Regions from separate parts of the Homo sapiens genome. Here region 1 is linked to region 2. The links come from fine-mapping of genetic effects on gene expression. Tissue or cell type: whole blood. Region 2 holds a variant in brackets; the other region holds the start of a gene. All regions are shown on one strand. Distances are between the middles of the regions. Region 1 holds the start of LINC02207 (long intergenic non-protein coding RNA 2207). Region 2 overlaps LINC02207 (long intergenic non-protein coding RNA 2207).

Evidence for each region. PIP is the estimated chance that this variant, and not a neighbour inherited with it, causes the effect.
Region 1: LINC02207 starts here. The variant in region 2 is fine-mapped to the expression of LINC02207 in whole blood (INTERVAL, PIP above 0.99).

What each region holds. Positions count from the first base shown.
Region 1 is chr15:93,854,850-93,857,773 of GRCh38, reverse strand. It overlaps LINC02207 (long intergenic non-protein coding RNA 2207), which reads right to left and starts at 1,214. Exons shown (of 4, transcript NR_120321.1): 1 at 1,178-1,214.
Region 2 is chr15:93,859,379-93,862,302 of GRCh38, reverse strand. The region is part of intron 1 of LINC02207 (long intergenic non-protein coding RNA 2207); the gene reads right to left. Among named protein-coding and RNA genes, the nearest start is that of LINC02207, 4.3 kb to the right of the region's middle. The variant G/C (reference allele first, on the strand shown) is at 1,312.

The DNA of each region.
Region 1 (2,924 bases), 4.5 kb after region 2:
TCATCTATTCCCCTCTTCACCCCTCTTGACACACCCTGCCAGAATGCATGTGACCTTCCAGAAAGGAATTATGCTCAGCAAAATGCCCTGAGGTATTAAATAATGAACTAAAATATGACTCTTTTTTTTTTTTTCTGAGACAGAGTCTGGCCCTGTTGCCAGGCTGGAGTGCAGTGGCACCAGGACCAGGTTGGAGTGCAGTGGCGTGATCTCGGCTCACTGCAAACTCCGACTCCCTGGTTCAAGCAATTCTCCTGCCTCAGCCTCCCAAGTAGCTGAGATTACAGACACATGCCACCACGCCCAGCTAATTTTTGTATTTTTAGTACAGACGGGGTTTCACCGTGTTGGCCAGAATTGTCTCTATCTCCTGACCTCGTGATCCTCCCGCCTCGACCTCCCAATAAAATATGACTCTTAACAAATATAAAATGAATGTATGTAAAGATTTTCTTTAAGTAATGAGTGAACCAGTAAGATGTTACGATCAGTATGAGGGAGGATTCAAACAACACACACATCCGTGCAATCAGAAATGCTGAAATAAACAAACACAGAAGATGTCAATAGTTACTGGGCAATAATACATTTGATTCTACTGGACAAAGTTTATTTGCATTCCTAGGAAAAAGTCATTTGCATTCACATAAGCTTTCTACACATTACAGATTTATAAAATGGTTCAAAAGAAGTGCAGACCCCTATAGAATTAGGTAAAATGGAAAGGCAGCTAAAGAGGACACCTAGTAATTATTTTATCCATTTCAAAGTCTTTCCACAATTTTTCCTGACAGAGATAACACTTTAGGAAGAATATCCTAAGTTAATTGAGAAGCCATATGAGAAATAATATAACTATTGCCCCCAAACTAGCCCTGTCCTCTTATCCCCTCCTAACCACACACTAGCCGGCATCAGGAACCAGGACATAATCAGACAGCTCCTTTCCCGTCTCTCCTTTCCCAATCATACAATGCACATGCCACCTGTTCACCATTTTTTTCCACCCCTCACCATCCCATACCCACATAGATGTTCTCTTTCCCATTCTCCTAAACTTCCTCAAATATTCTTTCTAGGAAGGCTTATCTCAAATATCATCTCCTCATTGAATAACAATAATGATGATAATAAAAGCCACTAATTGATTCCTTAGCTCTTTAGCTCACCACCTCACCTTCACAACTATCCTCAGAGGTAAGCTGTTATCATTGCAATTTTACAGCTGGGGAAACCAGAGCTGAGAGAGCCCGAGCCTTTTTCATAAGGTCACAAAACTATTATGAGGTGGTAAATGCTTTACTACCATGAAATAAAAAGATTTCCTCTCTCTTAGAGCTTTAGCACTCTGTCCATGTGCTCACTTAGCTTTTTTATCACATACCACGTATGGCTGTTTGTCTTCTAGCTCTCCCATTTCTTCTTTATCATCTTTCTTTGCATAACCACAACCTCCCTGCCTCAAAGTTACCTGTGCCTCTGCTCCTCATGAGAAAGCAGATAGCATGTCCTATCCATGCATGGGTCCATATACAGGGTAAGCTTTTACTAAATAGAACTGAAAGGTGAGTTTTATGACAATATAAACACAAATATATTTATGTCATTATATTCTCTTTTGTACATTACCTGTAGCAAATTATCATGTAGGTATTCAATAATATTTTCTTCAAATTTGATCTCCAAGGGAAATTGGAAAAGAAAATCAGAATTTCTAAAACACAATTCCACAGGAAGAAACACTTTTTAAAAATATTTAATTTTAAAATTAAAGACAGGTTTAGCTGCAGGCAAAGTAATCAGCATGACGAATGAGGATGGGTGATTTGGTCTCCTACTCCAACTTTGCCGTCTGAGTTCCCTGGGCTCTTAGAGGCTCAGAGTATCCCAGGCTGGACGGAGTCTGATAAACTCCGTGAATGTGTGTGCACTGTAAGCTAACAATGGAAGCACTGGCGTGGTGTCTTAGAAAGTATTCCTAATATCAGTACCTCTTACCCTCAAAGGACTTGTTCAGAGCCAAACGCCAGGGACTTAGGTAGAGGAAACATTTGAGAGGAGGAGAGTTTTTATTAAGTTTCCAAACTCACTCTATGTATGTCAGGTAATTTGACCTCATGTGAGAGGCAGCTGGCTGTGGGAGAACTGAAGTTTGGGCTGGGCTTGAATATGTTTCCTTCATACGGTGTGACCTTCCCCAAGTTATGCAAATCTTTGAGTCCCAATCTTCATGCTTAAATGAAAATGATGCCTGCCTGTTACAATTGCTTAAGGAATTAAATGGAGGTTTTCTCTATTTGCACGTGTGTGCATGTCACAATACACACAGAGAGAAACCACCAGGCAATGAAGGCTGATTCCATCCCTCCCCTGGTTAGTTCATATGATTTCTGAGCCTGCCAGAATTCCTTCCAGTGAAATGAAACTAAGGGAGAGAAACATCCCAAGGCCTGGATGCCTGGAAAGATTTTACCTAATGAATTTTCAGTTTATTTGTTATAAAAGTGAATTTGGTCTGATTGAAACAAAGTATTCACAGCTTTTCTGTGCTTTAAAATGTCATTACAAAAATGCAATTCTTTTCAAATATCTATTTTTAAACTTTATTTTCTAACTTCAATCTCAGGCCTTGATAAAAAAAAAAAAAAAAAGATGCTTAGTAATGTTTTGCCTTAGGAAATATTTTAAAAAGTTACTACCATAGGTTTATTTGACATCCAAGGACACATATATAAATAATTCAGAAGGTGGAAGTTATGGCAGAGGTCCATTTGTGATTAATAAGCCTAGAGCCTTATCAATAACATAATTTGAAGACTTTCAGCAATCTTCTACCGAATGCCTCCTATTCTCAAAGTAAACACATTGATCATGTAAATAGTGCTCTTTTTCTTTTCTAACTTGAGTGTATTTTTCCTCGCATT
Region 2 (2,924 bases):
AGTCTCGGAACTAACAGTCTGTGGCTTCCGCATCTGTGGTAAATCTGCTACCCTGATTCCCCCAAGCACTCTCCTGTACTCTGGCTACTCCAAGTCCTCCTCTGGGTCACCTCCTTTGACTGCTCCCCACTTGGCCTGTTCCCCTCCCTGCTTTCACATGATCCAGTGACTCAAAGCTGAGCGCCTGGTACAGCAGGAACTCCCAGTACCTGCTCCTGGGCTGTGCTGTCATCTGCTTGAACTGGTTGAGCCTCAACAATTTTATCTATTTTGACTATGACCCCTGATTAGAAGTTCAGTCAATTTTCCAGCTACAGTAGTCCATGAGGATACATTCCAGGCAACCCCCCTGCAGTGGTTGCCAGAAACCACAAATAGTACTGAATCCTATGTATATTATGTTTTTTCCTGTATATGGATACCTTATAATAAAGTGTAATTTATAAATTAGCCACAGGAAGAGATTAACAACAATTAATAATAAAATAGAATAGTTGAGTTAAATAATTGAGTACAAGCACTGCTGCAATACAATGGCCGCCGGTCTGATAACCGAGATGGCTGCTAAGTGACTAACAGGCAGGTACTGTCTACGGCGCAGACACGCCGGACACATGGATGCATCACGTCTCAGGCAGGATAGAGAGGGACAGAGAGAGATTTCATCACGCTACTCAGCAACAGTGCGTAATTGAAAACATATGAATTATTTCTTTCTGAAATTTTTCTTTTGATATTTTCAGACTGTGGCTGACTAGATAACTGAAACCACAGAAAGTGAAACCACAGATAAGGGGGGACTACTGTCATAAGTGGTAAGCTAGGTTTTGAACTAGGGCAGAGAGTTTCCTGGCAAGAATAAGGCCCCAGTGAAATATGATGAAAAATGATAGTAATGATGAACTGAAAATTTTTTAAAACTTTAAAATGGTCATTTGATGAATGATTTAAAAAGTAAAGGGTCAGAGAGGGTCAGGCAGGAACTGGAAAATGAGCATCGACTGCCCCTCCTCCCATTTTGTCCAGTGAAAAAACTGAGGCCATGGTCTTCCCAGTCATCTCATTGGGCATGCCCGGGTTGGGGATGGCCAGGCTTCACATCTCTGCTCTCTCCAGCATTGGGAGGATTCTAAAATGATTTTCCACAGGATGCTGATAGTCAATGGCAGCGACCATGATGGTAATACACTAGAAAAAAGAGCAACTGAAGAAAATGCAAATATAGCGGCAAATGTGCTTAAATTAAGGCAACAGCAATAAAAAAAACCAGAGGTAGAAAGTGTTAAGCCTTAGTTACCGCACCAAACAATT[G/C]ACATGCTTCCTACCCACCCTCAGACCTGGTTGTTAAATGCAAGCTATACATTATGCAGACCCGATAATGAAAATCTACATTCCATAATTTGCAACCTGCTGGCTCTGTTATGCCAAGTGCATCTTAAAGAAGGCATCTTTCAACCTAATTGCATGCAATTTTTCCCCATTCTAATTGTGTTATGAAAATACCACTATCTCATTCAAGCACAACCAGATCACTTTGCTTTTCCCCTAAAGCACACATCAGTAAAGCAAAACAAAACTGACGACTTTCTATTTTGCTATGCACCCAGGAATCCCAAATCGAAGTGTAATGGTTACTGACAAGCACTTTTTTTTCTGTAAGCCTCCAGGTCAGATGTTGGGAGATTTTTCTTGTTTCCAGGGTTAGGATTGCAAATAATAGCAACCTACACACATAGATAAATGTCTCAACCAAGGGTGATTTTGTCCCCCGTCTTCCTCACTCCTCAGGGACATTTGGCAAATGTCTGGTGGCATTTTTAGTTGTCATATCAGGGAGGAGGGTACTTGTATGTAGTGGATGGAGGCCAGGACTGCTGATAAATATTATACAATGTTCAGCACAGCCCTTCCACAAAAGGAAATATTCTGCCCAAGGTATGAATATTACCAAGGTTGAGAAACCCTGGAGTCTAAGGTAATGTTAAAGGACATTTGGTTAAACTCACCTATGGTAACACATTGATTGTACCCTTGTGTGTGTCAAAGAGTTTTAGGCCAGGCACAGCGGCTCACACCTATAATCCTAGCATTTTGGGAGGCCGAAGTGGGTGGATCACAAGGTCAAGAGATCGAGACCATCCTGGCCTACATGGTGAAACCCCGTCTCTACTAAAAATACAAAAATTAGCTGGGCATGGTGGCACGTGCCTGTAGTCTCAGCTACTTCCAAGGCTGAGGCAGGAGAATCGCTTGAACCCCGGAGGCGGAGGTTGCACTGAGCCGAGATTGTGCCACTGCACTCCAGCCTGGCGACAGAGTGAAACTCTGTCTCCAGAAAAAAAAAAAAAAAAGGGAAAAAAAGTTTTATTTGAAAAGACCACTCGTTCATGTAAATGAAATATATACTGTGTGCTCATCTATGGGAACCATAGCCAATTTCCACCAATGCCCTTGCATATGAGCTGTAGCCCCAGAGACCATGATTATCTTCTCCACTTGGAAGGGTAGAACTGATTAGTGCCAGAGCATGGGTCTGCCAGGGCAAAGGTAGCCTATTCAAGTCCTCCAACAGCAAAAATGTCAAAGAGTTCGTGGCAAAAAATTGTCCTTGGAGAGCATCGAGGAGAAGAAGTCAATATCTCAAATTCAAAAGAGTGGGAGAGTCCAAAGATGAGCCGCAAGGCTGAGGGTCCCGAGAATAATCAAACCAGTGAGAACAGTCTGCAGCAATAAATGGACATGTTGCTGCAGGAAAGGGGTCTGCCAGGATATAGCCGGGTAGCTGCAGGATATCCTCGTTGGATTCACACACACAAACACACACACAATCATGTTCTGCATAACAATGTTGTAGTCAACAATGGACTGCACATACAAAGGTGGTCCCATAAGATTAAAACAAAGCCACAAAATTCCTATCAATA